Linked DNA regions of Homo sapiens. The protein of the gene in region 1 binds, or shares a complex with, the protein of each later gene. Each region holds a gene or a part of one and is shown on either strand. Other genes may lie near its edges. The genes, in order: MED1, MED13, MED13L and MED12.

What was found.
Region 2: MED1 (region 1) and MED13 share a complex: the UniProt entries of both Homo sapiens proteins name them as parts of the mediator complex.
Region 3: MED1 (region 1) and MED13L share a complex: the UniProt entries of both Homo sapiens proteins name them as parts of the mediator complex.
Region 4: MED1 (region 1) and MED12 share a complex: the UniProt entries of both Homo sapiens proteins name them as parts of the mediator complex.

Annotation. Positions count from the first base shown.
Region 1 is NC_000017.11:39,440,748-39,448,711, forward strand, and holds part of MED1 (mediator of RNA polymerase II transcription subunit 1), read right to left. Parts: intron 7,158-7,964; coding exon 7,051-7,157; intron 2,882-7,050; coding exon 2,803-2,881; intron 1-2,802. UniProt on the Homo sapiens protein: Component of the Mediator complex, a coactivator involved in the regulated transcription of nearly all RNA polymerase II-dependent genes.
Region 2 is NC_000017.11:62,061,526-62,069,453, forward strand, and holds the start of MED13 (mediator of RNA polymerase II transcription subunit 13), read right to left. Parts: upstream 3,754-7,928; 5' UTR 3,681-3,753; coding exon 3,615-3,680; intron 1,777-3,614; coding exon 1,542-1,776; intron 1-1,541. UniProt on the Homo sapiens protein: Component of the Mediator complex, a coactivator involved in the regulated transcription of nearly all RNA polymerase II-dependent genes.
Region 3 is NC_000012.12:115,959,370-115,967,333, forward strand, and holds part of MED13L (mediator of RNA polymerase II transcription subunit 13-like), read right to left. Parts: intron 6,875-7,964; coding exon 6,713-6,874; intron 4,151-6,712; coding exon 4,038-4,150; intron 2,030-4,037; coding exon 1,897-2,029; 3' UTR 1-1,896. UniProt on the Homo sapiens protein: Component of the Mediator complex, a coactivator involved in the regulated transcription of nearly all RNA polymerase II-dependent genes.
Region 4 is NC_000023.11:71,127,861-71,135,824, forward strand, and holds part of MED12 (mediator of RNA polymerase II transcription subunit 12), read left to right. Parts: intron 1-32; coding exon 33-260; intron 261-435; coding exon 436-580; intron 581-737; coding exon 738-858; intron 859-1,253; coding exon 1,254-1,355; intron 1,356-1,455; coding exon 1,456-1,569; intron 1,570-1,819; coding exon 1,820-1,995; intron 1,996-2,174; coding exon 2,175-2,354; intron 2,355-3,689; coding exon 3,690-3,761; intron 3,762-4,212; coding exon 4,213-4,346; intron 4,347-4,516; coding exon 4,517-4,678; intron 4,679-4,984; coding exon 4,985-5,096; intron 5,097-5,262; coding exon 5,263-5,352; intron 5,353-6,496; coding exon 6,497-6,606; intron 6,607-6,852; coding exon 6,853-6,988; intron 6,989-7,231; coding exon 7,232-7,393; intron 7,394-7,964. UniProt on the Homo sapiens protein: Component of the Mediator complex, a coactivator involved in the regulated transcription of nearly all RNA polymerase II-dependent genes.

The DNA.
Region 1 (7,964 bases):
AAAGATTCATCCTTCCAAAACCGTAAACATATTCAGTAGTTCAAATGCTTGTAATTTACATAAAGTTCACTGATTAGGGTTAGCTGTGGCCTATGCAGTACTAAAGGTCAAAAAAAAAAGATCTATTTGAAAAATTACCGAACCTTTCTCCTCTCCTGTTTTCATTACTCCTTATGTGGGACAAACTGCCTTTAACTTAAGACACATTTATCTGCTAATGATAGAATAAGGAAGATTAACATTAAAACTAACATTAAAAAAAACTCAACATTAACAACACCATTAATCACAACAGTCAAAAGGTTAAAACAATCCAAGTGTCCACTAGCAGATGAATGGATAAATGAAATGTATATACATAAAGAGGAGTATTTTTCAACCTTAAAAAAGAAAGAAATTCTAATAAATGCTTCAAAATAGATGAACCTTGAAGACATTACGTTTAGTGAAATAAGCCAGTCACAAAAGGACAAATATATGATTCCACTTATATCAGGTATACAGAGTAGTCAAATTCATAAAGACAGGAAGCAGAATGGTGGCTGCCAGGGACTGGGGGAAGGCGGGAATGGGACATTACAGAATGTAAGCTTGGGAAGATGAGTGAAGTTTTACAGATGGACAGTGGTGATGATTATACAATAATATGAATGTACTTAACGCTACTGAACTATACACTTAGAAACAAAGAAAATGGTAAATTTTGTTACCTATATTTTACCACAATTAAAACAGAAAAAAAGGCCTCGTGCGGTGGCTGACGCCTGTAATCCTAACACTTTCGGAGACCGAGGCATGCGGATCACAAGGTCAGGGGTTCAAGACCAGCCTGACCAACGTGGTGAAACCCTGTCTCTAATAAAAATACAAAAATTAGCCAGGTGTGGTGGTGCGCGCCTATAATCCCACCCTCTCGGGAGGCTGAGGCAAGAGAATCTCTTGAACCCGGTGGGGGCGCAGTGGTTGCAGTGAGCAGAGATCGTGCCACTGCACTCCAGCCTGGGTGACACAGCGACACTCTGTCTCAAAGAAAAAGAAAACAAAAAAAGGTAAAGAAGATAATACTCAGCTGAGACTGGGCAAAGTGGCTCACGCCTGTAATCCCAACACTTTGGGAGGCCAAGGCAGGCAGATCACCTGAGGTCAGGAGTCCAAGACCACCCTGGCCAACATGGTGAAACCCCATCTCTACTAAAAATCCAAAAATTAGCTGAGCATGGTAATGGGCGCCTGTAATCCCAGTTACTCAGGAGGCTGAGGCAGAACAATCACTTGAATCCGGGAAACGGAGGTTGCAGTGAGCAGAGATCGTGCCACTGCACTCCAGCCTGGACGACAGAGTGAGACACTGTCTCCAGAAAAAAAAAAAAAAACCCTCAGCTGAATTAGGTTCATTTCTGGTGGATCACAGTAAAATCTGTTTTTACTTTCATTATTCCCCAAAAATAGAATTAGTCATTATAAGCATGAATAATCAAGCTCATGACTTATATTTTACATTTGCTTTCCTGGAAATTTGCTCCATAAACACCGTAAAAATCTTTTTAGAGTTAAAATGTCCATCTTCTGGACAGGCATGGTAGCTCACGCCTGTAATCCCAGCAATTTGGGAGGCCGAGGCGGGTGGATCACGAGGTCAGGAGATCTATACTATCCTGGCTAACACGGTGAAACCCCATCTCTACTAAAAATACAAAACATTAGCCAGGCGTGGTGGGACGCGCCTGTAGTCCCAGCTGCTTGGGAGGCTGAGCCAGGAGAATCGCTTGAACCCAGGAGGTGGAGGTTGCAGTGAGCCAAGATTGTGCCACTGCACTCCAGCCTGGGTGACAGAGTGAGACACCGTCTCGGAAAAAAAAAAAAAAAAAAAAAAACTTCGCGAGTTGCTGTGGCTCGCGCCTGTGATCCCAGAACTTTGGGAGGCCAAGGTGGGCAGATCACCTGAGGTCAAGAGATCGAGACCAGCCTGACCAACATGGAAAACCCTGTCTCTACTAAAAATATAAAATTACCCGGGCATGGTGGCACATGCCTGTAATCCCAGCTACTTGGGAGGCTGAGGCAGGAGAATCGCTTGAACCCAGGAGGCAGAGGTTGTGGTGAGCCGAGATTCCACCACTGCACTCCAGCCAGAGCAACAAGAGTGAAACTCCATCTCAAAAAAAAAAAAAAAAAAAAAAAAAGTCCATCTTCTTATCGAGATTAATCAGAAATAAATGTGAAGGGAAAAAAAACTTTTCCCAGGTATCTTTTTTTTTTTTTTTTTTTTTTTTGAGACAAGTCTTGCCCTGTTGCCCAGGCTGGAGTGTAATGGCGTGATTTTGGCTCACTGCAACCTCCGCCTCCCCAGGTCACACTGTTCTCCTGCCTCAGCCTCCCGAGAAGCTGGGATTATAGGTGCCCGCCACCACGTCCAGCTAATTTTTGTATTTTTAGTAGAGACAGGGTTTCACCATGTTGGCCAGGCTGGTCTCAAACTCCTGACCTTGTGATCCGCCCACCTCAGCCTCCCAAAGTGCTGGGATTACAGGAGCGAGCCACCGCACCCAGCCTCCCCAGGTATCTTATATTACCCTTCATCATTTATCTTTTAAATCTCTATCAGCCTCCAAAACAGGATCAAAAATAAATGTTTCAAACTTTAGCAAAAAGATCATTCCAACTCCATAAATGAATGCAAGAGCAATATCTAATACATAAAGTTGACCTACCTCAATTTTTTACTTCTAGTTTAAGTATAAAATGGTCCTTCTTGAACTGGGGGTTTTGTGAAATCAGCATATTTCAAAAGTGTTCACAAACCTTTGAGAGCCTTCTGCAATGTCTCCAAACAGCTGACCAAATGTTGATGCCCTCCAGAACTCATCACAACCCTCTTCTCCTGTGTCAAGTGGGAAAACATTTGAGGTGAAAATTAACCAGGCCAACAGTGTTTTAGGTAAACATACACATTATCCTAGTAGTAATATTGCAGGACAGTCTATAGACTCAATATAGTCTATAGATTTTGTAGACTATATAGAGTAACACTGGTCTACAAGTGTTACTCTGTCCATCCATGCAAAATCCATATATATGAGTGTAGAAAAAGGTATTCCTCAGCCAGGCACGTGGCTCATGCCTGTAATTCTAGCACACTGAGAGGCCAAAGCTGAATAATCACTTGAGTCCAGGAGTTCGAGACCAGCCAAGGCAAGATAGAGAGATCCTGTTTCTATTTAGTCAAAAACAAAAAAGAAAACGTTGTATTTCCACATCTAAAACAAAAAAACCTTTAGAGAAATATTAGGAAGAATCAAAATGTAATACATGAGATCTGCCGCCTGTGGAAGTGACCACATGCTAAGATATAAACAGTTAAATAAGATGGCTCAGGAGATTTGGTAGTGTACAAATTTAACAAGGTGATTTGCATGTAATCTGAGAAACACAACCAAATTTTAAGAAAATGAGATTGACTCTAAAAAACAGAACATATAGGCTGGGTGCGGTGGCTCACACCTGTAATCCCAGCACTTTGGGAGGTCAAGGCGGGTGGATCACGAGGTCAAGAGACTGAGACCATCCTGGCCAAAATGGTGAAACCCCGTCTCTACTAAAAATACAAAAATTATCTGGGCGTGGTGGTGCACGCCTATAGTCCCAGCTACTCAGCAGGCTGAGGCAGGAGAATCACTTGAACCCAGGAGGCGGAGGTTGCAGTGAGCCGAGATCACACCACTGCACTCCAGCCTGGCGACAGAGAGAGACTCTGTCTCAAAAAAAAAAAGAAAAAGAAAAGAAACAGAACATGTAGTCCAGAAAAGGGACTTCCAAAGAACAAAAACTTAGCCTAGTTTGAGGCCGGTTGCAGTGGCTCACGCCTGTAATCCCAGCACTTTGGGAGGCCAAGGCGAGCAGATCATGAGGTCAGGAGTTCGAGACCAGCCTGGCCAACATAGTGAAACCCCATCTCTACTAAAAATACAAAAATTAGCCAGGTGTGGTGGTACGCGCCTGTAGTCCCAGCTACTCAGGAGGCTGAGGCAGGAGAATCGCTTGACCCGGGGATGCAGAGGTTGCAGTGAGCCAAGACCACACCATTGCACTCCAACCTTGGTGACAGAGTGAGACTCCATCTCAAACAAAACAAAACAAACAAACAAACAAAAAAAAACTTAGCCTAGTTTTCCTAACCCTATCCAGTGAAGAAGTTTCTCTCTGAAAAACATTCCAGTCCCTAAAAACGTGAACAGTTTTCTGGTATAAGGATAGTTTTCCAGGCTTTTCCATGTTGCAAATAAATCTATCTCACTGCTCTAATTCTCCCTTACAAAACAAAGTAATTTATTAATAATCTGAAATCTCTTGATTCTTGACAGGAGAAGAGGTGCTCTGGTCAATGAATACCAGTATTATGAAAACTGGAAAACTAAATGTTTTGTCATAAATTAATAAATAAGCATACAGTATGTCAGTTGTTGAAAACTCTTTTTTTTTTTTTGAGATGGAGTCTCGCTCCGATGCCCAGACTGGAGTGCAGTAGCATGATCTTGGCTCACTGCAACCTCCACCTCCCGGGTTCAAGCGGTTCTGCTGTCTCAGCCTCCCGAGTAGCTGGGACTACAGGCGCCTGCCACTATGCCCAGCTAATTTTGTCTTTTTAGTAGAGACAGGGTTTTACCTTGTTGGTCAGCCTGGTCTCGAACTCCTGACCTCAGGTGATCGACCCGCCTCAGCCTCCCAAAGTGCTGGGATTACAGATGTGAACCACCACGCCCAGCCATGAAAACTCTATAAAATCTTGATGTACCAATAAAATTAGGTTTCTGAATCTGCAAAACTGAAAAGTAGACAAGCAAAGTCATGGTGACCAAACCAAGAGAGTGGTACCCAAAGAGAGGGCCTTATTAGCCACCTGGAATCCTTCTATCTCACAATGTCTCTCTAATGACAGTATCATTTACAGAACATATTTCAAGCTAGAATTTGGTTGCCTTAAGGAATAAAAATGACAACCTGGGCCAGGCACAGGGGCTCACACCCGTAATCACAGCACTTTGGGAGGCTGAGGCAGGTGGATCACAAGGTCAGGAGTTCAAGACCAGCCTGGCTAACATGGTGAAACCCCATCTCTACTAAAAATACAAAAATTAACTGGGCATGGTGGCGGATGCCTGTAATACCAGCTACTCAGGAGGCTGGGGCAGGAGAATCGCTTGAACCCAGGAGGCGGAGGATGCAGTGAGCCAAGATCCCACCACTGCACTCCAGCCTAGGTGACAGACAGAGATTCCATCTTTAAAAAAAAAAAAAAAAAATGAATCCGCCAGGCACGGTGGCTCACACTGTAATCCTAACACTTTGGGAGGCCAAAGTGGGTGGATCACTTGAGCCCACAAGTTTGAGACCAGCCTGAGCCACAGAGTAAAAACCTATTTCTGGCTAAGCGCAGTGGCTACGCCTGTAATCCCAGCACTTTGAGAGGCCGAGACGGGTGGATCACGAGGTCAGGAGATCGAGACCATCCTGGCTAACACGGTGAAACCCCGTCTCTACTAAAAATACAAAAAGTTAGCCGGGAATAGTGGCAGGGGCCTGTAGTCCCAGCTACTCGGGAGGCTGAGGCAGGAGAACGGCATGAACCCGGGAGGCAAAGCTTGCAGTGAGCCGAGATCGCACCACTGCACTCCAGCCTGGGTGACAAAGCGACACTCCATCTCAAAAAAAAAAAAAAAAAAACGATTTCTACAAAAAATATAAAAAACTAGCTGGGCAGCCGGGCACAGTGGCTCACGCCTGTAATCCCAGCACTTTGGGAGGCAGATCACGAGGTCAGGAGATGGAGACCATCCTGACCAACATGGTGAAACCCCATCTCTACTAAAATACAAAAAATTAGCCAGGCGTGGTGGCGTGTGCCTGTAGTCCCGGCTACTCGGGAGGCTGACGCAGGGGAATCTCTTGAACCTAAGAGGCAGAGGTTGCAGTGAGCCGAGATCGCACCATTGCACTCCAGCCTGGCCACAGAGCAAGACTCCATCTCAAAGAAAAAAAAAAAAAAACTAGCTGGACATGGTTACATGCACCTGTTGTTCCAGATACTAGGAGGCTGAGGTGGGAGAACCACCTGAGCCTGGGAAGTTGAAGCTGCAGTGAGCCATGATCGCGCCACTGCACTTGAGCCTGGATGATAAGACCTGGTCTCAAAAAAAAGAATGAATCAAAAATTCTACTAGTACAGGCTGGGCATACCTAATCTGAAAATCAAAAATCTGAAATGCTCCCAAATCCAAAACCTTTTTAGCATTCCCAATGATGCCACCAAGGATTTCACACCTGACCTCACATAACAGGGTCATAGTCAAAATGCAGTCAAAACGGCTGGACGCGGTGGCTCACGCCTGTAATCCCAGCACTTTGGGAGGCGAAGGCAGGTGGATCACCTGAGGTCTGGAGGTCAAGACCAGCCTGACCAACATGGAGAAACCCCGTCTCTACAAATAATATAAAAATTAGCTGGGCGTGGTGGCGCATGCCTGTAATCCCAGCTATTCGGGAGGCTGAGGCAGAAGAATCACTTGAACCTGGGAGGCAGAGGTTGCAGTGAGCCGAGATCGGGCTATTACAACCCAGCCTGGGCAACAAGAGTGAAACTCCGTCTCAATAAAAAAAAAAAACAAAAAAAAACTTAGTTTCACACACAAAAGTATTAAATATATTATTAAATATGTTGTATAAAATTACCTTCAGGCTATATCTATAAGGTGTTTATGAAACATAAATAAATTATGTGTTTAGACTTGGGTCCCATCCCCAAGATATCTCATTATATATTTGCAAATATTCCAAAATCCAAAACAATCCAAAATCTAAAACACTTCCGGTCCCAAGCATTTCATATAAGGGATATTCAACCTGTAGTATAGATACAATAGACTCCTAAAGTTGAAACCACCATGTATTCAGATGTTTTATGAAGATAGTATGAACACATCTACATGGGGAGCTTAGCGTATTAAGAATAATTATCTAAGCAAAACACTTTACCCACTTCACCACAATCCTTACCATGACTTGACGCACAAGCTTAATGGTTTCACTCCAGGGTCTATTTTGGTTAAATTTTGCATGGAGCCGTTCCAGGAGAGAACTCATCTTACTCAGCTTTTCTGACTCTATGATTTAAATCAGAAAACGTTATCAGTAACTGTTCTATCAAGACCATCCACAGTTTTCCTTGCAAAATAAATTCCCACACTTCATCACAGTAAGAATTCAGTTAAAATATTTTCCAAAATCATTTTACTTCAAAACATCCAAAGAAGACATTTTTAATGGCAAGATGACACACAAGTTATGGGTCTGATGTAAGGAATACCATACCACTGGACTGTTATCTATCCACCTTTTTTTTTTTTTTTTTAAAGACTAAGTTTCACTCTTGATGACCAGGCTGGAGTGTCAAACCCTGTCTCTACCGAAAATACAAAATTAGCCAGATGTGGTGGTGCATGCCTGTAATCCCAGCTACTTGGGAGGCTAAGGGAGGAGAATTGCTTGAATCCAGGAGGCAGAGGTTGCAGTGAGCCGAGATCACACTATTGCACTCCAGCATGGGCAACAGAGCGAAACACTGTCTCAAAAAAAAAAAGAAAGAAAAAAATTAGCCAAGCCTCCTGGCATGTGCCTGTAGTCAGTCCCCAGCTACTCTGGAGGCTGAGGCAGAAGGATCACCTCAGCCTGGGAGGTCGAAGCTTCAGTGATGAGCCTTGATCACACCACTTACTCCATCCTAGGCAACAGAGGGAGACATTGTGTCAAAAAAAAAAAAAAAAAAGTTATTGAACTGGGCTAGAGAGGAAAATTTAAAAAAAAGAAAAAAAATAAATGAAAATGCTGGCTGGGCGGAGTGGCTCACGCCTGTAATCCCAGCACTTTGGGAGGCCAAGGCGGGTGGATCACCTGAGGTTGGGAATTCGAGA
Region 2 (7,928 bases), about 23 Mb from region 1:
TATCAATAATTATGTTTTATCAACAAATATATTTTATCAATAGTTTATAGTTTTTCAACAATGTTATACAGTCTCCAAACATTCTAGTAAGGTGATTTTTATGACCACTTAACGATTAAAATAACTCAAATACTATATCCAAAACAATGAAAGAAAAAGGAGGCTGGCGGACTTAGCTTTTGGCATAATTAGAAAGTATTGTCTCGCTAAAACTACCATATATACATACATCATGTATATGTACATATATGTATATACATATACACATCACTTTACACATTTAGAACTACATTAAATACACACAACTAAGGACTGGACTCTGCAGCAGGCATCTTATTAGAAAAACTACAAAAGCTGGAAAGCTTTCTTGAAGAATTGCAGTCACTCTCAAAAATAACAATTAACACTGGAGAGTATGTTCATTAGAATGTGAAAAGCAATTATCAAAACATACAAATGTAACACGTACATTCCTACATAAATGTTGGTCTTACTAAGTACCAGTTCAAGATACAGACACCTAGAATACATTCTATCCAAAAATAAAATAGATCCTATAGGTCAGAGATACAATAACAAAAACTTCAGAGTACTCAATTTCAAATAAGAACTTAAAAAAAATTATCTAGAAATCCTAAGTTTATCTGTCAAAAATCATTATCAAACTATCTTACTGAAGTCTTTGGAACCTTATAGCATACAACCAATCATTTATATTCCTATTATCTAAGATTCAGTTAATACTGACTTTCACAATTTAAAGCTTCAGTAATTATATGAAAAGCTATAGTTTCTCTTTCTAAAGTAGCATTTGGTCCTAAAAGTCAAGAAAATAAGGAAGTAATCACATTGATTTGCTCACAATAAAATTGTTTGTGTAACCTTTTAGATTATGATCCCATGTCCCATAAAAGCTAAACAAGTTGGCACTTTTCTCTTATTATGTTTGACAGAACAGTATATGAGTCACTTTCCAAAAATAACTAAATTAACATATGCCTTCATAAGTTAATCAAATAGCACAAATGACAATAACAAAATACATGCCTTAAAACACACACACACACACACACACCACACACACACACACACACACACACACGGATAGTTACATTTCCAGTACTTTTAGAATCATCTGCCTATTCAATGCAAAAGACTCAACTTCAGCAGTGGCTGAAGTGACTCAAAAGTTACATCTGGCTTCTAAACTATTACACGACTTTGTTAGGAACTCTGTTTCCTGATTCCATTTTTTTAGATTAATGTAACATGCCTTCTTCGGGCCCTAACTACCTGTGAGAAATTAAGAAGAGAGGTGGTGGAAGGAGAAAGTCATTCACGCCTTAAAAACCCAGCTATAACAACATGGATAATTTAAGTAAAATAAAATAATCATGGTGAAATAAAACAATGAAGCTGAATTTTTATCTGGCCTCCTAAGTCTCCCACAAAAACAAACTTAATTTGTAATACATATGACATTCTGGGAGAAGTATACAATGTTGCTATATCATTAGTTAGAAATGGAAAGTTTCTTTCACCTGATAAGTCATGGTGAATAAGGTCAGCAAAACTGGGGTCTTCACCCCACCAAAATATCCACAATTCTCTTCTTCCAGGTCTTTGATCTCGCCGCCAAACACCAAGTACATCTGCCTTAAGGCAGCGACTAAAACTGCTCAAAATGGGGTCTTCTTCTGTCACAGGAAACAGAATAGGGGCAGAAGTTGGGCCTTGCCATACATATTTTTTCCACTTAATTCCTGTCAAGTCAGCCTGAAGGAAAGAAAGCATTAAGTTTTATTACTGCATATTCACTCAAAGTCAAAAGTACTCAATATGATGTCTCTTATTTCATTAAGACATTACAATTTTTCAATGTATGCTTGAGATATTGACTGCAAATTAGAACAAAAAAAGACTTTATAATTCAACAACCAAGAATTTTAGGGAGAAGAATACAGTTAAAAATTACCACCACCATGTCACTGAATAGCAAGCAAATATGTACTCCAAGTAGAAACAGAAGAAACTGAATGATGTTAAATATAGACACACACTTCAATATGCAAACAGAGTACATTTTTCTCTGTCCTAACTGGTCACATTTGTTCACTGGTGTCAAACTTTTAACTGAAAATCAATTATTAAAGACCCTATCATGGGTTTTTATTCCACATTTACAGAAGTAACGTCTCTAATGAAAAGACATCTGAACAAGTTCTGAAAAAATCTATGTTAATTCTTCACACACACCCCTGTCGGAAAAGTCAAATAGCTACTCACAAAGAACTGTCAGATTTGTGCTAGTCTATCTTCAAAGAACTGATCCTAAAAGTACCAAAAATAGACTGAGTTGGATAAGATAGAAATATAAAACCTGGTGTATGTCTTATTACATGTGAAGAGATGCTGATTAATGGACATTGAAAAGAAAAACATACTGTAGACGAGGATAGAGTATTAAAGATCTCAATTTAGCATGGGCGTTAAGAAATTCGACAAGAGGAATTCAGTAATTTAATCTAACTTAAAGGAGCAAAGCATAAGGTGCCAAAAATGAAACTGCTGATACATGACTGGCAGTTTACACTTGCCAACTAGTTGTGCTCCTCCCACTTAACTCACTTACCTATCATATACTCTTAATATTTCTCATAGCACAAAGGAGAAAATGAAAAAGTAAAGTCACCCAAACTTAAAGTCATTGATGAAGCTCAGCTACTGTCCCATACAGGACAAGTTATTTGCAACAGTTGGTACTTCTGAAAGCCTTAACTGTTGGATGTTACCAGACCTGGGCTAACCTACACAATGATCATCCCTACATCCCGCTTCTCTCGACTTTCCATTTCAATCAAACAAGGGAGCAGCCTGCTCAAAACATTCTGAAAAAGCAACCAAAACACAATAAATATAGAAACAGTGCAAAACCACAGCACCTCGTCCACTAGCCCCCTTCACTCTCACAAAAACATCATGTTCTAATAAAAGCAAGATGGCTAGAAATTGTCAAAAATGGCAAACTGTTTTCAAAGTTTAAAAAGAAAACATATGAAATGGCACCTACTGGCTTTTACAGAGAGATCTTAAGTCACCCAAGAAAGAAACTAACCTGGCGTTAGTTTGACTCATACAAAAAAAATGTAAAACCAAGACAGGTTTCTAGGGCTTAAGTTCTGGGGTCCTGTTTACATGGGGAAACCAAATTAAAAGGGTAAGACATAAAGGCGGTGGGGAGCAGGGGCAATAATGTAAAGTGTGAAGCAGGGATACAGGGCCAATAAGGAGAAAAGCAACAGTTAAGCAAGACAAGAGGGAAAGGTTACTGTCCTGCCAGATAAGGAGCTCAAGTTGAGGACGAGACTACGGTGAGAAGGAGAGTCCGAAACAAGACGAGAAAAAATGCCAACACTCCCCTAAACAGAGCCCGGGACCGTAGGAGAGCGAACGCCGCCTCCCGGGGCTGGCCGCGGAGCTTCGCAGGGCGCCGGCTCCGGCTGGGCCTCGCCCGGGAACTCGGGCATCTGGACCAGACCCGGCCCCCTCCCCCACGGCCCAAGGGCGCACCTCGCGGCCCCCCTCCCTCGGCGCCCGCCGGCCCCGGCACTCACCAGGCAGAAGAGGTTACAGTGACAATCTTCCAGGCTGGCCCCGTTCGGCACGAAGGAGGCACTCATCGTCCCTCACAGCAGCCGCCGCCGGCGCCACAACCCACCATCCGCCATTACCGCCGCCTCCGACCAGAGAGAGAAACACAGACACCGGGGAGGGCCGGGGGGGGGGTAGTGGTTGGGGGGGCGGTGGAAGAGGAGGCCGCCGGGCGCCCGCCCTCCCCACCCACCCCCCCGCCGCCGCCGCCGCCGCCGCCGCCGCGAGCAGCCCCCGCCGCCCGGCCGGCACCCAGCCGCCCGGGGCCGAGGGCCGGAGGCGGGAGGGCCGCGCCGCGCTCGCCTGGCGGGCCGGACTGCGGATCCCGCAGACGCTCGTCCCTCTCTGGGGGACGGAGGGGATGTGTGCCCCTACCACAAGAAAAATAATAAATTACACAATAAATAATCAAAATCAAGTCCGAGACGGCAGAGCCCAAGCCCAGGACGGTTCTCCCGGGCGGAGAGGCGCCCGCACAGGAGCGGGAAGGGCGAGAACCGGGAGAGAAGCCCAGGCCCCCGGCGCGGCAGCGGCGATGTCCTTAAGCCCAGAGTCTCCTCAGCGGCGGAGGTGGTGGCGGCGTCTGCGGGCTCAGACCATTCTCTGGCTCTGTCTTCGTGTCGTTCCTGGGCCAAGCCGGCCTAAAGTTTGCCCTCCTGTGGCCTCACCGGCTGGACGCCGTAGTCTCCCCCATTTTGTGGGCCCAGCGGGCGGTGTTTTTCCCCCTTTAATCCGAATTCACGGGTTTTCCCTTCGCTTTAATGGCGGCCACAGGGACCAGCTCGCCCTCTCTGCTCACCCATTGGCCGCCTTGAGGTCACGTGGGCCCGGGCTCGGTTGGGAGGGGGAGAGAGAAGTGAGCGAGGGAGGGCCGGGAAGCTTTCGGCGGAGGCGGTGAGCTCGGGGGACGGGGCAGCCAGCTGGTGGCCACTAACATAGCGCCATCTGCTGGGTGCCCCGGCCAGTATAAAACGACCCGGGGCCCTGGCCCTCTCTTTGCGGGGAAATTTACAGTCCAGGAAGGTTCATTTCACAAATCAGTGAGAATTACGTGGAAATCAGTTTGAGTTCTTTGGAAGAGAAAGTATTGGCAAAAATTCCAAGACATTCTCATTTATTTCGCGAGGCCGCTGGGGTGCAGGTGCAAACCTCTGGATTTGGGAGTCAGATGATCTGGATGGGGATAAGACTCCTCAACCTAAAAGTTGTGATATGAAGATATAAATTTAAGAAACAAAATATTGCCCTGTAGTTAATAGACTGGGAATTAGAGCCACACTGCCTGGGTTCCAAGCTTGAGCAAATCACTTCCTGCTCTGTGTCTTTACTCATCTGTAAAATGGGGAAAACATATCCCTTACCCCACAAGCTTATTGTAATGAGTTAATACAAATTAAGCAGGTAGCCCAGTGCCCCGCACAGATAAGCACTGTTAAGAGTTAACTATTATTGTTGTCATCATTACCTCATATAGTTATTGTGACGAGCAGGAGAACTAGTGTATGTAAAGGTCTCACTATTTTTTTGTTGTTTACTTCTGTCTCTCTAGTGCCTAAAAAAAGGTTCCTAGCACACAGTAGGTGCTTGATATTTGTATAGTTACAAATGAATGGGTGGTAAGAAGTAAGAACCAAACAAAAGGTTTATTCTCTTTCCCATAAAACACCCAGTGCTTGGATGGGTTACACTTCAATATGAGTTCAAAACAGTTTCTCTGACGGTTTTAGGATTGCAAGAAAGAAAGAAGAAGAAAAAGATGATTCAGAAGTTAGAAACATCAGTGAGTTAGGACTTACTGTAATTTTATGTATTACAGATACATAATTATGTATTATGTATTACAGATACATAATTGTATCTGTAAAATGAATGGTAGACTCTTCCATGTCACTTCTTCAGCCACGGAATGAAAAGAAGTCCTCATTTATCCACTTGTTCATCTGTGGTGGTGAAGAGCCCAGATCTGAAGCCCAAAGCCTGGAGAAAAAGTTCTGCCCCTCACTAGTTAGTCTTAGATCATATTTGACCTTAGATCAAATTAATTTTGCTTTCTCTCGGTTATTGTAAAATGGGGGTAATAAAAGTACTTTTCTTCTAAAATGACTGGTGAATGAAACAATGTAGATACAGTGCTTGCCACAGTGCTTACTTAATGTTAATTATTAATGTAATTTTAAAAATCATTGAGAACCTGCTGGCTCAATTGAGTGTGTTCCTGCTCTGTGCTAGGCCTAGGATACAAATAGGAATAAGATACCTGCCTGTCCCTCAAGATTCCTGAAGAGAGGCACTAAAGGAAACATTTCCTACAGAATAAGGTAAAATACAATGGGGGTAATTGCTTGAATAAAGTATGTACCTACTATGGCATAGTAAGTGCACTAGAAGAAGAGCATCAAACTTAGAGAAGTTGTCATAAAGTAGGTAGCATTTGAAATCAGATTTGAAGGATAAAATGAATTCTTATAAAGCCCTTTGAAGCAGTTAAATCTTATTAAACCTAATTCGAACCCAAAGTCCACATATCAAAGTCAATTATGCAACCAGGACTAATTCAATCCAGGAGCTCAAATCAACTAAGGTTGGCATCCTTTATAACCGAGTGCCAGCACCAGGAGACAGCAATCCCCAGATCCAATGAGGTAAGCGCTCCTCTGCCCATTTCCCGTTCCCTGAAAAACTCCTCAGATCTTTGTTCCGCTGCTTTCCTCAGGCTGAAATGCCCTCCTCACATCTAAAGGGGTCTCCATTCTCCTTAGAAGTCTTGCCCTCCCATTGCCCCCACCCCCTGACTTGAGCACCATCCTCAGGATTCCAATGGCAGGTAGAATATACCTGAAACCTACCAGTAGGAGGTAACATTTGATTGACCTTTCTGTTTGAATGTCAATCTTTTCAAAAAGAAGAGGGAGACAAGGAGACAGAAGCGAAGAAGGGAGGAAGACCCAGAAGAAAAAGTCTGATGGAGGATCGCAGAAGGGAGCAGGAGAGAGAGAGAAAGACAGGACTGAGAGAATGGAGAAGCAGATTAGAATGGGGGGGATCCCAGTTGTGAGGGGAATGGAATCATTGGGAGAAGGGAAAGAGAAGAAATAAATATTTTCAGCCCACAAAGAACGTATCAGTAACCACTTACATTCGGTAAAAATGACATTTTGTGTGATTTAAAGAGTAATGGAGGCCGGGTGCAGTGGCTCACGCCTGTAATCCCAGCACTTTGGGAGGCCGAGGCGGGCAGATCATGAGGCCAGGAGATCAAGACCATCCTGGCTAACACGGTGAAACCCTGTCTCTACTAAAAACACAAAAAGGCGGGCGCCTGTAGTCTCAGCTACTCGGGAGGCTGAGGCAGGAGAATGGCGTGAACCCGGGAGGCGGAGCTTGCAGTGAGCTGAGATCGCGCCACTGCACACCAGCCTGGGCGACAGAGTGAGACTCCGTTCTCAAAAAAAAGAAAAAGAGAGTAATGGAAATACGGACTTTGGGTATACCATCCTGGTGGGGGATGTTGATAATGAGGGAGGCTGTGTATGTGTGGGGGCAGGAGTTATATGGGATTTTTAAAAAGTAATGGAAATAACTAAAAACATTACACACATATTGTCGGCCAGGTGTGCTGTGTCACGCTTGTAATCCCAGCACTTTGGGAAGCCGAGGCAGGTGGATCACCTGAGGTCAGGAGTTCAAAACCAGCCTGGCCAACATGGTGAAACCCCATCTCTACTAAAAATACAAAAATTAGCCAGGCGTGGTGGCACATGCCTATAGTCCCAGCTACTTGGGAGGCTGAGACAGGAGAATTGCTTGAACCCGGGAGGCAGAGGTTGCAGTGAGCCAAGATCACGCCACTGCACTCCAGCCTGGGTGACAGGGTGAGACTCTATCTCAAAATAAATAAATAAAAACATTACACACACATTGTCAAAAGTTTGGCAGATACATAAAAGCGTAAAGATGAAAATTTTAAATGTACATTACCCAAAAAAGTCCGTATCATTACCATTCATAATTAATCACTTTTTAACATTTTGATGTATTGACTTTTCCCTATGTATCTTTTTCCTACATGGTTGAGATCATACTATATGACCACTTAACTACCCACATGTATTAACCATCTAGTATGTGTCAGGTCATGTATTGACAAAATACAGCATATACAAGCAGCTCATAATCTTGCTTATAATGGCACTTGAACAGTTAGACCAACTGGGGTCAAAACTCCATACTTGGCCCAGCACGGTGGCTCATGCCTGTAATCCCAGCACTTTGGGAGG
Region 3 (7,964 bases), on another chromosome or scaffold:
ATTAAAAACAGCCCATTTAAAAAAAAAATTCAAAGTTCTGATGAATTCCGGGAAAAAAGCAACCCCAAAGTGGTAAAAGATTACAAATATCTACTTTACAATTTGTCTTCTCACCAAGATAATTTTATACAAGTTTACAATCTTCATCTTCTTATGCTCTTCAAAAGGCCTTGAGAATTTTCCTTTCTGATTAAGAAAAAATAGCACTGCAATATTTTTAAAGTCAATTTTACACTGTACACATTAGATACAAATGGTTTGATATATCAGATTTTTTATCCTATACATTGCGAAAGTCAACCCCCCCTTCAACTGGTGGTACAGAGAACAAAATTATCCATTTACAAGTTATTTCTCTGCTTTCACATTCCCACCACACAACTTTTTTTTTAATATAATGTTTTAAACTTTAGATTATTTCAAGAAAAATACTTTTACAAAATCATATCAATTATTACATTTTTCCTTTTTTGTTAATAACCAGGACATGGAAGTCTCTTGGAAGAACTTTTAAAATTTGCATGATTCTCTCCACAGATGACAAGAGCTCAAAGGCCTGGTCACAGTGGCTCCCGGGAGGCCAGTACACACCCACTGTCCTCAGACAGAAACACACAACACAAGGGTTAGAAACAGGGTTTCAAAGACAACCCTCTGGGCCAGGAATGAGGAGTCATAAAATACTTCAATTAGCCATTAATGCTTTAAAAAGGCATTTTTTTAAAAAGTCCCACCACAAAGGCTCAACTTCAAGTACTAATTTAATGGTTAAGTTGTAATATTTCTTTGAAATAATATTCCTATGGTCCAGAAAAAATTCACCATATTTATAACTGATTTCATGAGCAAACACTTTCAATTGTTGTATGTACATAAGTCCCTTTTGATCTAATGAGAGGAGAGACCTGGCTTCCAATAAGAATTCACTAGAAAATATATTTCCGTTGTGACTATATAAAACTAATTAAGGTACTTGCCTCCATGGCTCTGAGTTGAGCTTGACTGCCTTCTGTATAAAAATGTTATCCTTCATGAAATGCTGGCCACTTAACATGGCAGAACTTTTAAAATCCAGTTTGTTGTTAACAAAACCTACTGCTGGGTGGTTTTGAATATATTACTTTTAGGCATGATCTCCCCAATGTGTTTTTACTCCTTTTCCGGCTTCTAGGACAGAGGTATGTAGTCAAAGAATCCTATGGTGGATCTGAATTGGGTTTCAGCTACTGTACCTGGTCCTTGTGAATTAAAAAAATAAAGTCACAAAAACCATATGACAAAACAAATTAAAATAAATAAACAAAATGAAGCTGTCTCCAGACCTTCTGCATTGACACACAGGTTTGAAGTCAACCAAAGCACTCATGCTAATCTGGATGGGAACACTAGGGAGACAGAAACCCCAGTATGAAACCATGTACTTGAGCTGGTTCTTATTTTTAAAAAGTCCCAGATTATGGAGTTCAGGTAACCCACAGGCCATACACCAGTAACTAAGAGGATTTCATCCAAAGGGCTAGACTGCCCTCAATTGTATACAGAGGCTGAAAACACAGACTCTTGTGCAAAAGGACACTGTCTCTTCTGTTTCCCGCTGAAAAGCCATCAACCACCACCACTTCCTGGGGACCAGTGGTTGGGGCTACACACACCACCGCACTGGCTGAAAGTCACCACTTATGGAAGTTTCCAGGTCCATGAGAGAAGTGTCAAGGAGTCACTCTGGTAATGAACACTGCAGAATTGACATGTGCCTGCTGAGAAGGAATCACAGTGCAGGACTGTGGAGAGTGGTCTGAAGAAAAGGATGTGGGTTATTTGCAGAGTGTAGCAGGTTCCTTGGACTGAGGTTGCAGGGAGAAGGAACTGAGCCAGAGAGAACAAGTGCTTTTCCAATTAAAGTATATTCATGATGGCATTGTACAACTGAGTGAGCACCACAAAGTGGACGGGAAGGCAGGAAGTACGGTCCTGGGTGGCCGGATTGCACGTGAGCCAGGACAGAGCGTTGTACTGCTCCAAAACAAACCTGCCAAAGAGAACACACAGAGCAGGGGCGTGAGCCTCAAGAGGGAAGGCTGGTTCTCAGATTCTAATACATTCCAGATCTTAGCAGGAAGGAGGTCTCAAAGGCATTCCTTAACTTGCCCCAGGCTCTTTCCCTCATCCTTTGTCTCATGTTCCTCCTTCCTTCTAGATATGGACTATCCAGTACAGTAGCCAGCAGCCACACATGGCCATTGAGCTCCGCCAGTGAGGCCAGTAGGAACTTGCGTGGACTGCAGGTAAAGTAGGCACTGGAGCCCAAACACTTAGGGGCCAGGTGCAGTGGCTCACGCCTGGAATCCCAGCAACTTTGGGAGGCCGAGGTGGGGGTGGATCACCTGAGGTCAGGAGTTCAAGACCAGGTGGCCAACATGGTGAAACCCCATCTCTATTAAAAATACAAAAATTAGTCAGGCGTGGTGGTGCATGCCTGTAATCCCAGCTACTTGGGAGGCTGAGGCAGGAGAATTGCTTGAACCTGTGGGCGGAGGTTGCAGTGAGATCATGCCACTGCACTCCAGCCTGGGTGACAGAGCAGGACTCCGTCTCCAAAAAAAAAAGAAAAAGAAAACGAAAAAAAGAAAAGTATGTAAAATATTTCATGAATATTTTTATATTGTTACATGTTGAAATAACATTTTGAGTATATTGAGTTAAATAAAATATATTACTAAAATTAACCAGTTTCTTTTTACTATTTTAATGTGGCTAACAGAAAAATTTTAATTAGATTTGAGGTTCACATTGTATTTCTATTGGACAGTGTTCCTCTAGGGCAGCAGTCTCCAACCTTTTTTGGCACCAGGGACCAGTTTCGTGGAAGACAATTTTTCCACGTGGTGGGGGATGGTTTCAGGATGAAACTGTTCCACCTTAAATCATTAGGAGTCTCATAAAGAGTACACAACCTAGATCCCTTGCATGTGCGGTTCACAATAGGGTTTGTGCCCCTATGAGAATCTAATGTCATTGCCTGACAGGAGGCGGAGCACAGGCTGTAATGCTCGCTCACTTGCTACTTACCGCATGCTGTGGGGCCTGGTTCCTAACAAGGCATGGACGGGGGTTGGGGACCCCTGCTCTAGGGGGCCTGGAAGCCAAATTTATGTTGATCAGGTTCTTTATTTTTATCCATAACTATAATTATACATTAATCTATAATATATAGTTTCCTATCATTTCCTAACCATTTAAGAGTTAGAAAACATTAGAAAAGGCCTGTATATTTTCTCAAGGTAGATGAAGAATGCCTGTGGCTTGATTAATACACACTTCTGGAATGCACTTCTCAACTATGTCATTTATGTTCTAGTCCATTTTTAAAAAAACACATAATCGGTGGCTCATGCCTGTAATCTCAGCACTCTGGGAGGCTGAGGCAGGCAGATCATGAGGTCAGATCGAGATCATCCTGGCTAACACGGTGAAATCCCGTCTCTACTAAAAATACAAAAAATTAGCCGGGCATTCTGGCGGGTGCCTGTAGTCCCAGCTACTTGGGAGGCTGAGGCAGGAGAATGGCATGAACCCAGGAGGCGGAGTTTGCAGTGAGCTGAGATCACGCCTCTGCACTCCAGCCTGGGTGACAGAGCGAGACTCCATCTCGAATAAACAAACAAAAATACATAATCTATCTCAGGAAGCATAAAAAGTGTTTTCAATGTGAGGTGCTTTAAGAGTTCCAGACACTGTCTTCTAACTATCCACCCCCAAGATCTGACCTCTCTTCATCACCATGAAGTGCCTGCTCTGAACAGGAAGCAAAGGCAACTATAAATGCCTATCACTGCCTAACTGAATCCAATGTATTACACCGCCTGTCCCATGCAGCTATGAGGGACTGCAGCTCTCACTGACTCATCAGATACTGTATCACTGCACAAACGGCAGCTTCTATGAATACCACACTTAGATTAAAACACCTTGGAAAGACAACAGTAAAGGAATATTGTTTCAAATTGCACTGCTATGATGCCTAGGTTGGTATCTACCTTAAAACATCCGACGTGGTTTTGGAGTCAAGAGGGTGTGGAACCCGCTGAGAATTCCTGGCAGGCAGAAGTTCGTCTGTCTGTGCTACTGAAATGTGGTGATGCAGCGAAGCCTGGTGAAAAAACAAAGAGAGTTACCTCTCTGGTCTAGACAATCACAGTGCAGAAGTGAGGGAGGCCATGTCTGCCAGAAGCAGATGCTCCCAAAAGTCCGTAGAAGTCAGGGTTTCTGTGAGTCTACAAATTTTAACCTGCTCAGTAACCCCCAAGGTAATCCCAAATAACTTCTTATCCTAGAGTTGGAAAAAAACAAAAAAAAAGCAAACTTTTTGGGCTTTTTTTGTCTACTACATTTTGTTTCTTCAATGGAAATAGTCTAGCACACACAAAAATACTATAATATATAATAAGGTCCCATGAATTGATATCGCCAAGATGCAACAATTATCAATATTCACCACTTTTCTGTTTTCATTTTCTTTTTCTGAATTAAACACAAATATTACCATCTCTATAAAACATTAAAAAAAAATAGCTGGGCATGGTGGTGTGTGCCTGTAGTCCCAGCTACTCAGAAGGCTGAAGCTGGAAGATTGCTTGAGCCTGGGAGGATGAGGATGCAGTGAGCTGTGATTGCACCACTGTGCTCCAGCCTGGGCAACAGAGCAAGACTCTGTCTCCAAAAAAAAGAAACAAACAAACCAACCCCCAAAAAACCCTCCCCACAAAAAAACAAATATTGTATTATTTTGCTTGTAAAAAGTCAGTAGATGTCTCACATAAGGACCTTTAAACATAACAGTAATTATCACAGAAAAATTAACAATGATTCCTTAATATTATCACCCCATCTGTAGGATAATGAGGAAGATAATGCTCCATTATCTCAAAAATGTCTTTTTATAATTGGTTTACTAAAATCATGAGCCAACATGATCTGTACATGACAAATGATTAAAGGCATGAAATGTCTACTGTCCCACTTGAAGTCACATGATTCATCACTGGGTTCAGGTGATACCAGGACACTACATCCATCATAAAGTTCCTCATCAACTTTTCACCTAATGGTTTTGGTATTACTTTACATGTAAAGGAGAGGCAACATATAAATGCTTCTTTCTCTTTATTTTTTTATTTTTCAGACTGAGTTGATGCTCTAGCAACAAATGATGACTGATTTTTTGTTTGTTTTCCAACACAATTATGAACCAAGGATTTGTTTCATTCTATCACTGTCATCATTTTTTTTAATGATCACACTGTCCCATCCTATCCCTGGACAACAGAGCTGCCCCCTAAGATGGCTCCTGAGGCCCTGCTGGACCATAATAATCTTTGGTAACTTTCTTCCTTTTAGGTGTGACAAGATGCCTCAGGTTCATTGTGAATATTTCCTGCTGCATATCTGGAATCAGTCATCTCTTCAAAGAACCACAGTTCCTTTAAATGACAACGGTGTGCAGGAACCACATTCGTGGCAACAGAGGTGTTTATTGCTGCTAAGCTTTTTCAGCAGACAGAGCTAAAAAAATGTGTATACTTTTTTAGAGAGGAAAAATAAATCTATGCTCATATTGATAATTCTAATTCAAAATAAAGAACACATGCATTTTTATAAACCTTCTTTGATTTTATAATAGTATGTTAAAGTCATTAGGAAAAGAACATTGCTTCACTGTCTAATAAGTTTTTGGTTTAATTTCCATCGTTTCTTTCTGAAAATATACACAGCTATGTGTGTACGTGTATATGTGTGTGAATGTGCATATCTTATAGATTACTCCATGGTAATCTCTACTCCACAGAATGATTACATAGAAATGGTCTCCATTTTGTTGTAGATGATTAATATTTCACTGTCTGGATGCACCACAGTTGATTCAATCAGTCCCTCACTGATGACACTTAGGTTCTTTCTAGTCTTGGACATATGTCATTTTCTGTTTTGGCAAAGAACCTTTGGGCTATTCCTTAGAGGTGGGATTGCTGCCCTGAAAGGGAAGTGTGTAGGGCTATATCATTCAGCAATCCCACCAACACCAGGGCCTGCTCCCCACATCTGGCCAACACAGTATGCTGCCAAATCTTTGTATTTTTGCCAATCTGTGGGCAAGAGATGGATTTCATTCTAGGTATTGCTGTTTTTAACATAAACTGCAAGTAGGGGATCTTTTGTTTTGAACCCTTAAAATTGGGATTAAAAGGTTCCAAGAAATATAAAGGAAGGAGCAAGTGTAAATGTGCGATGTTTTTAGCTGACTCTTACTCTTCTCTAATGAAGAATGTGAAGAGTCCCTGGCAGGGGAAGAAGAGGATGGCTGGTTATTATACCTTCGACACAGGCTTAACTTTACTGATAGTGATGCAATATAGACTTGGAGAAAGACCATCACATTGAACCCCATGCATCCATCCTAGATTTACCCTCTGGGCCCCACTGTTTCCTCCTTGGGCTACAGTGATTCATTTCTTTGTGACATGGTTTTGGGTCCTCCTAAATTCTACTCTCCACCTACAACTGTAATTAAAATTTCCTCAGAGTATAAGTAGATACAAGAGAAAAAAGGAACAGAATAAGATTATGGTGACTAAAACTGAAATTTCTAACCAAAATTAAATTTAAGCGTAAATCACTCATTCCTTGCAAACTTCTAATATGACACCAAACCAACCTTTAAGAAGAGAGGGCACTGGTTTTGAGCCTGGGGACACGATGACCAAAACCACTGGGGAAGATTCTCAGCTTTGGCAGTTGATACAAAATACCCAAGGGCCAGGGGCTGCTGCTTTAGCTCCTCTGGTGCTTCTCTAGAAAGAAGACGCTCACCCTGGCTCTGAAAAACAAAAATCCCAAAAACATGATCAGCATTTATCTTAAAGCTTGAAAAATGAACTTTCATCAGTTCACTCTGCACACTGCAGTGAGTGATCCCCTTTGTGGCAGCATCTCACAGAAAACAACAGGTGACTGAGAAAGGTAAGCGGGGCCAGCATCGTCTTTGCTGCACACATAGAGAAGATACCAGCAAAACTGACAGCCTCAGTCAAGTAAGTACAGATTTATTTGCTTGGGTTTCTTTTCTAAGGGATGTAAGATCTATTTCATGGCATTATGATGTAACAAACTAAAATGGAAAGATTACAATCTCTGACAGCAGAAGGCTCTACCACACGCAGGTGCTCTTTCACCAGCAACCAGCCAAAGACACACAAGCGCACCAGCCTGACCAGGACAATGTGACACCAGTATGTGCACAGCACAAAAGTTCCTGAGCTGCCAGTAGTGCAAGATCTGCTCACAGAGAAGCCATGTTTTCATTTGCAGCATTCCCCTTAATAAGAGACTCCTGGAAGAGGCTATGTTTTGCTGCAACTGACACTTTTCTTATCTTTTAATTCTTTTAGCTAGCTTCATCAATTGAAAATGTACCTTTCATGCAAGCAATAAGTAATGCATTTGTTTTTAAAAGTCTCTGTTTATGCTGGGTGCGGTGGCTCACACCTGTAATCCCAGCACTTTGTGAGGCTGAGGCGGACAGATCACTTGAGGTCAGAATTTCGAGACCTGCCTGGCGAACATGGTGAAACCCCACTCTACTAAAAATACAAAAATTAGCCAGGCACAGTAGTGCACGCCTGTAATCCCAGCTACTCAGGAGGCTGAGGCAGGAGAATCCCTTGAACCCAGGAGGCAAAGGTTGCAGTGAGCCAAGATCATGCCACTGCACTCTAGCTTGAGCAACAGAGTGAGACTCTGTCTCAAAAAAAAAAAAAAAAAAAAAAAAAACCTTCTGTTTGGAAGGAAAAAATAATCTGCAGCTACTACATCAAACTGTATCAATTCTGAGTTGGTTAAAAAAATAAAAAATTTACTGCCACTTTGAACGCATTCTCTTCCCTGCTGTAATGTCTTAACTGGATATC
Region 4 (7,964 bases), on another chromosome or scaffold:
ACACTACTATCTCCTTTCCTCCATCCCTGCAGCGACTTTTGCTCAAAGGTGAAGAACACCATCTACTGCAACGTGGAGCCATCGGAATCAAATATGCGCTGGGCACCTGAGTTCATGATCGACACTCTAGAGAACCCTGCAGCTCACACCTTCACCTACACGGGGCTAGGCAAGAGTCTTAGTGAGAACCCTGCTAACCGCTACAGCTTTGTCTGCAATGCCCTTATGCACGTCTGTGTGGGGCACCATGATCCCGATAGGTATGGGGTGTACTGAGTGAGGAAGGGCACCATGCCCCCATCTGAGATAGGGAGGGCTGAGGTACCCGGGAGGTACTACAACCTTGATTATTTAGTGGGGCAGAGATGAGAAGTTAATGGGTCTGAGGTTTTGTGGAGCAAGGTTTTTCCTGAGGGCATTTGTACTTTTCCCTAGGGTGAATGACATCGCAATCCTGTGTGCAGAGCTGACCGGCTATTGCAAGTCACTGAGTGCAGAATGGCTAGGAGTGCTTAAGGCCTTGTGCTGCTCCTCTAACAATGGCACTTGTGGTTTCAACGATCTCCTCTGCAATGTTGATGTGAGACTTGGGGTGGGGTTTTGCTAGTGGGGCAGTGACCAGGGCAGGGGGCTGGTTGTGATCCTCTGACCAGGGACAGAGTTCCGTAGAGTGGAGGCACACCGCTTTGAGTGGGCCTCCACACTGAGTCATGGTGTCTGTCTGTTTTTTCCTCCAGGTCAGTGACCTATCTTTTCATGACTCGCTGGCTACTTTTGTTGCCATCCTCATCGCTCGGCAGTGTTTGCTCCTGGAAGATCTGATTCGCTGTGCTGCCATCCCTTCACTCCTTAATGCTGGTGAACTACCAATCTGTAACCCCTAGCATTTCTAGACCTCAAATTTCAATACACACTGGACGGCCATCCTCTCATTGTTCACTGTGGGAGACCTTGCTGCGGCTCCCTGGCCTTCCTCAGAAGGCCAGTCCTTTGGTATGCTGAAGGCTAGAAGAAACCTGTTTTTTAGCCCTGGATTTGCAGCCCTGACCTTTCCAATTTCTGACCCTTCAACTGCGTAACAGTTCTCTGCTCTACCTCGCTTTCAATATTATCTTGCTTTTTCTCCTTTCACTTTACCTCATCTTCTCTCCCATGCCCCTGCCATACACTTGCATGCATGCAGGCACGCACACACATAAACCCACATACAGTTTAACTTCATCCCTTCCAGATCTGTTTTGTCTTCCTTTTAGCTTGTAGTGAACAGGACTCTGAGCCAGGGGCCCGGCTTACCTGCCGCATCCTCCTTCACCTTTTCAAGACACCGCAGCTCAATCCTTGCCAGTCTGATGGAAGTAAGTGACCCTGATCTGAACCAGCCAACAGTAGAAAGTGTGGTTCCCCTGCCTCCGTGGATTCTACTTTTGCTTCCCCTGACTTCATCGCCTTCCCCAGACAAGCCTACAGTAGGAATCCGCTCCTCCTGCGACCGCCACCTGCTGGCTGCCTCCCAGAACCGCATCGTGGATGGAGCCGTGTTTGCTGTTCTCAAGGCTGTGTTTGTACTTGGTACGGGGGTAGGAAGGGAGTGGTGCCAGAAGTGTGTATAGGGTGGAGTGCCAGCTAAACTACAAGGGACAGTCTTTCTCCCTTCTGAAGGTGGTCTCTCTGACCTTTGGGGAGGAGGGGAGGGAGAGAAGTATATTTCTGTCCCATAGGGCAGGATTTGGGGTGTTTCTACCTCTGTGGGCCCAGGGTGGGTCTCCACACGTGTTCCAATCTCACTCTGCCCTCCCTATCTCCCACCCGTGAACCACAGGGGATGCGGAACTGAAAGGTTCAGGCTTCACTGTGACAGGAGGAACAGAAGAACTTCCAGAGGAGGAGGGAGGAGGTGGCAGTGGTGGTCGGAGGCAGGGTGGCCGCAACATCTCTGTGGAGACAGCCAGTCTGGATGTCTATGCCAAGTACGTGCTGCGCAGCATCTGCCAACAGGTCAGTTTCACCTTCCTCCCACACCTCCTAAATGCCTCTGTGTAATATAGTTCTGTTTCCAGCCCATGATCACACCAGCTCCCTACTATACATTGTGTTCCTTAACAACTCCAGCCCATCCCCCATATTCCTAACCCCCTCACTGGTTGTTCCCAGTCCCTGATTGTCAGCTTCCTCAGGAATGGGTAGGAGAACGTTGCCTTAAGTCTCTGTGTGAGGACAGCAATGACCTGCAAGACCCAGTGTTGAGTAGTGCCCAGGCGCAGCGCCTCATGCAGCTCATTTGCTATCCACATCGACTGCTGGACAATGAGGATGGGGAAAACCCCCAGCGGCAGCGCATAAAGCGCATTCTCCAGGTAGGCCAAGGCCGTGGGGGCTGTGGAGGAAGCAGTGGGCCCAATCTGGGGAGAAACAATAGGAACCTTGAGAAAAGGAGAGGGGCAGTTAAGTAGAGAGGAAGACAAACAAGGATATAGGGGAGGGGAGAGGTAGCGAGAGAAACAGCTCCAGCATGGGCTGAGGAGTAAGTCCAGTAGGGTCTAGACTCCAGTGTAAGAGTATTAGGTGAGGGCATAGCTATCTGGAGTGAATCTAGCTTATCAATGGGAAGCATAGCATCTGGGAGGCCTAGGTGTGGGCCGTGTATATTTGGCATTTTGGCCATGGCTCAGGAACTGAATAGTAATAGCTACTACTTGCTGAGCATGTGCTTTGTGCCAGGTACTGTGCTAGGCACTCTGCACACATTTCCTCATTTAATCTTTATGACCCTATGAAGTAGGTGAGCCTCCCTGTTTGACCGATGAGGAAACTGAGGCTTGAAGAGGTTAAGTAACTTGTCTAACGTCACATAGCCCATAAGTTTAGAGTCAATATGTGAACCCAGACATGTCTGTGCACTTTCCTCTTCACATTGCTTCACACCTTCAGATGACCAGAGAGTGGAAAAATAAAGCCGTTGAGGAAAAGCTAAAGGAATAAGGTCTCTTCAGCCCAGAAGAGATAGTGTTGAAGAGAGATTAGCTAACAGTAGCCTTCTGGTCTCTACAGGACTTTGAGAGATTGTCTTATAAAGGTTCTGTCAGGGACTTTGAGCAGCTGGTCTAAAACAAGAGAAGCAGGCTTCAACTTTAACATCAAGGGTTTCAAGGTTAAGCATTAAGCAGAACTTCCTGATACGAAGGGATGGGAAAGATGTGAAATCTTTCCTGAACTATTTTAAAAATTGGAAAGATTTTCAACTAGTTTGGACTATTTAAATGTAGTCTTTTTTTTTTTTTTTTTTTTGAGACGGAGTCTCGCTCTTGTCGCTCAGGCTGGAGTACAGTGGTGCGATCTCGGCTCACTGCAACCTCTGCCTCCCAAGTTCAAACAATTCTCCTGCCTCAGCCTCCTGAGTAACTGGGATTACAGGTCGCCCATCACCACGCCCAGCTAATTTTTGTATTTTTAGTAGAGATGGGGTTTTGCCATGTTGGCCAGGCTGGTCTTGAACTCCTGACCTCAGGTGATCCGCCTGTCTCAGCCTCCCTAAATGTAGTCTTTCTTAAAGATGGGGACATAGAGGTCCCTTTCAGACCTCCAGGAGTCTGTGATTCAATGTTGCAGGAGATCAGGAATTGGCCTCAGATTGTTGGGTAGCTGGGGGTAACACGATGATGACTAGCCTGGGTGTGGGGCCTCTATCACAGAACTTGGACCAGTGGACCATGCGCCAGTCTTCCTTGGAGCTGCAGCTCATGATCAAGCAGACCCCTAACAATGTGAGTAGTGCCTGGACCCTCCCTTTCCTGTGCTCACGTTCAGCTCCATGTGTCAGGGAGGCGGTCCACCACAGAAGAACCTAGATCCTACCCTTGGGCTCTTGAGCTGAGAGATAAGAGGGGATGGGAAAATGGTGAACAAGTGGAGCTGATGATAAGGGAAATGGGTTGAGAGTGTTGGAGCTCTGAGCTGTGGGGAAGCTTGGTGGTGGTGGTGGAGCCTGTTTCTCTGGCCATAGATGTAAGGAGGTATGTAAAGGAGAAGACAGTGAGGAATTGGAGAAATATGGAGGTACTAGAGGGCATGATTCCCAACAGAGTTGCGTTCCTATCTCCCCATCAATCTCCGCCAGTGTTGTCCTTCTCCGTCATCTCCGATCTCTCCTACCATCTGCTTTCCTTCACCCTTAGCTACCTATTTTAGCACTTCTGTGCCTTTCATCCTCCCCAGGAGATGAACTCCCTCTTGGAGAACATCGCCAAGGCCACAATCGAGGTTTTCCAACAGTCAGCAGAGACAGGGTCATCTTCTGGAAGTACTGCAAGCAACATGCCCAGCAGCAGCAAGACCAAGCCTGTGCTCAGGTCGGATAGAAACATGTTAGGACCCATCCCCTTAGGAGTTTATCTGCTGGTAGCGTGAGTGATATCAGATGCGTGGAGATGCCAGCATGTCCATCAGGGAAAGGAGAGGATAGATTGTTCCAGCCTTGCCTGGCTCCCCTGTGACCCTGTGTCCTCTGTCTGTTCTCCAGCTCTCTAGAGCGCTCTGGTGTATGGCTGGTGGCCCCCCTCATTGCTAAACTGCCCACCTCAGTCCAGGGACATGTGTTAAAGGCTGCTGGGGAAGAATTGGAGAAGGGTCAGCACCTGGGTTCCTCTTCACGCAAAGAACGTGATCGACAAAAGCAGAAGAGGTAAAGGGGCTTAGGGAGTGGACCAAGATTGAGGGGTAGAAAGGAGAAGAGGCAGGCCCGGGGAAGAATAAAATGGGCCAAGGAGAAGCATCATAGGAAAGTGGAAAATCAGAGGATAAGAGTGGGCATGGCTGAGCAAGAGGCTAGATCTTAAGAGAGTAGTCTGGAGAATGAGGTTGGAAGTTGACTCCCAACCCACAGTCTCCCTTTTCTCCTCTCCTCTTCTCTCCTCTTCTCTTCTCTTCTCTTCTCTTCTCTTCTCTTCTCTTCTCTTCTCTTCTCTTCTCTTCTTTCTCTTGTCTCTAGCATGTCCCTATTGAGCCAGCAGCCCTTCTTATCGCTGGTGCTAACATGTCTGAAAGGGCAGGATGAACAACGCGAGGGACTCCTTACCTCCCTCTACAGCCAGGTGCACCAGGTACAGATCTCTGGGCCATGGAGGTGGGCAGGAGGTCAGGGAAGGATGCACCTAAGGGGTTACTCTGTACTTGGAAACTTCAGTACTTTCTGATAAACATATTGGCTGCTGTGGGATGGAAACACGAAGATCCCTGAGCTGCATATTTTATTTGTTTCTATTCTAGATTGTGAATAATTGGCGAGATGACCAGTACTTAGATGATTGCAAACCAAAGCAGCTTATGCATGAGGCACTCAAACTGCGGCTCAACCTGGTGAGAAGGCCAGCTGGGGAGAAGAAGGAAGAGGGTAGGGCTGGAAATGCGGAGTGCAAAAGCCTCAGGTTGGGGAGAATGGGGGTAAGGATAGAGGCCCCAGGTTATTCTGAGTCTTGAAGGGTTTTTTTTTTTTTTGGAGTCAGAGTCTCACTCTGTCACCCAAGCTGGAGTGCAGTGGCGCCATCTCAGCTCACTGCAACCTCCACCTCCTGGGTTCAAGTGATTCTCGTGCCTCAACCTCCTGAGTAGCTGGGATTACAGGTGTGTACCACCACACCTGGCTAATTTTTGTATTTTTCATAGAGATGGGGTTTGACCATGCTGGTCAGGCTGGTCTTGAACTCCTTACCTCAAATGATCCGTCTGTCTCGGCCTCCCAAAGTGCTGGGATTACAGGCATGAGCCACCGTGCCCAGCCTGAGTCTTGAAGTATTAACCTTGTTCTCTGAAAGTATGCAGGGACTGAAAGTGGTTAAGGGGGCTGGATCACTGTGGTCATGGTCCAATAGGTTATGTACCCTGGATCCTTGCAGGGCCTCTGCCTCAGTATCCTAGATTCTGACTGGGCCCTAGAAGCACTGGAAACCCACTGTGGAATGTTGAATGGAATCCTGGAAATCATTCTGTCCAATTCCCATCACTTTCTAAGTATGGAAACAGAGGCCTAGAGACGTCAAGAATTCCGTCATTGTCTTGAGATCATGTAGCAAATCATAGGCTCAACTCAAGCATGGCCGGGCGCGGTGGCTCACGCCTGTAATCCCAGCACTTTGGGAGGCCGAGGTGGGCGGATCACGAGGTCAGGAGATCGAGACCATCCTGGTTAACACGATGAAACCCCGTCTCTACTAAAAATACAAAAAAAATTAGCTGGGCGTGGTGGCAGGCGCCTGTAGTCCCAGCTACTCGGGAGGCTGAGGCAGGAGAATGGCGTGAACCCGGGAGGCGGAGTTTGCAGTAAGCCGAGGTCGCGCCACTGCACTCTAGCCTGGGTGACAGAGCGAGACTCCGTCTCAAAAAAAAAAAAAAAAAAAAACTCAAGCATGAACTCAGGCGTCCCAACTCAGATTGGAACTAAGCTTTCCTGAAACTCTGGCCTTTGTCCCTGAGCCATCTGACTGACTTGTTGTGGCCCTGGCAGGTGGGGGGCATGTTTGACACGGTGCAGCGCAGCACCCAGCAGACCACGGAGTGGGCCATGCTCCTCCTGGAGATCATCATCAGCGGCACTGTCGACATGCAGTCCAACAAGTAAAGCATCCCCACCCGCTCCCTGCAGTTTCATACCCAAGAAGCTCCCCCTACTCCCATGCCAGGTGCACCCACTGAGATTGGTGTGGCTGTTACTGTGGACTCCGTGGCCCTGGGCTCCCCATACAGTTTTGGTGCCCTTGGGATGACATATTAAGCACCTCTCCCTGCTTGTGTCCTCTGCTGAGGCCTTTTTCTATCTTCACCTCTTTCTTCTTTGGTTTTCTCTCTGGCTTCCTGTCTCAGTGAGCTCTTCACTACTGTGTTGGACATGCTGAGCGTGCTCATCAATGGGACATTGGCTGCAGACATGTCTAGCATCTCGCAAGGTAGCATGGAGGAAAACAAGCGTGCATACATGAACCTGGCGAAGAAGTTGCAGGTAAGCAGAGGAAGCGGGGGCAAGGTTTGCGGTTACTGGAATCTGCTGTCCAGCCTCAGGAACTTGCTTCTGGCTGGAGCCCTCTACCTTTCCTTCTCACGTCTGCCTTTTCTTTGTTACTCATGCCGTGAGCATTTACTGAGTGGGGGTCTTCTCTGTGCCAGGTTCTGTGCTGTCCCCTGAGACTTCCCATCCCTGTTTTCTGTATCTCTGAACTCTTGTCCCATCTTCCTGTGCCTGCAGAAGGAGTTGGGGGAGCGCCAGTCAGACAGTCTGGAAAAGGTTCGCCAGCTGCTGCCACTGCCCAAGCAGACCCGAGATGTCATCACGTGTGAGCCACAGGGCTCCCTTATCGATACCAAGGGCAACAAGATTGCTGGCTTCGATTCCATCTTCAAGAAGGAGGCATGTTCCATTGTCTGCCCGTGTCCCTTGCCTTTTTTCCCCTTTGGGCAAGAACTTTGCCTGCATCAGCTTTGTAGCTCCAACAGACTCATCAGATTCAGGAGCCCATCAGTCTCTGCCGGTGAACACCATCTCTGGGGTTTTGAGCAAATCACTTAACTTTCCTTACATTTCATCTCCATCTTTGAAGTCCCACCCTCTTTCCTTCACCCTGCCCTCACCTTTTAACATACCACCCATTTTTCAATACCCTACCCTCCTCTTTCCTCTGCTCCACCTGCCCCATGTCCTACCCCACCCATCTATCTGGCCGACAGCCTGTATCTCTTTTATTTCTGTGTTTCCCTACACCCACCCATCTCTGCACACTTTTATCTTTTCCCTCTCTGTCAGTTGCGGTATTTGTTGAGTAACCATAATTATTGTGTATAGTTTAAAACCCAAAGTCTAACTCCTTCATATATACATTCTCTTCATCTGTCTTCCTAGTCCATCTGTCTCTTTTCCTCCGTCTCTGTCTCTCTCCCTGTCTGACTCGTTTGCCTTTCTTTGTCTCTCCACCTTTTTGTCT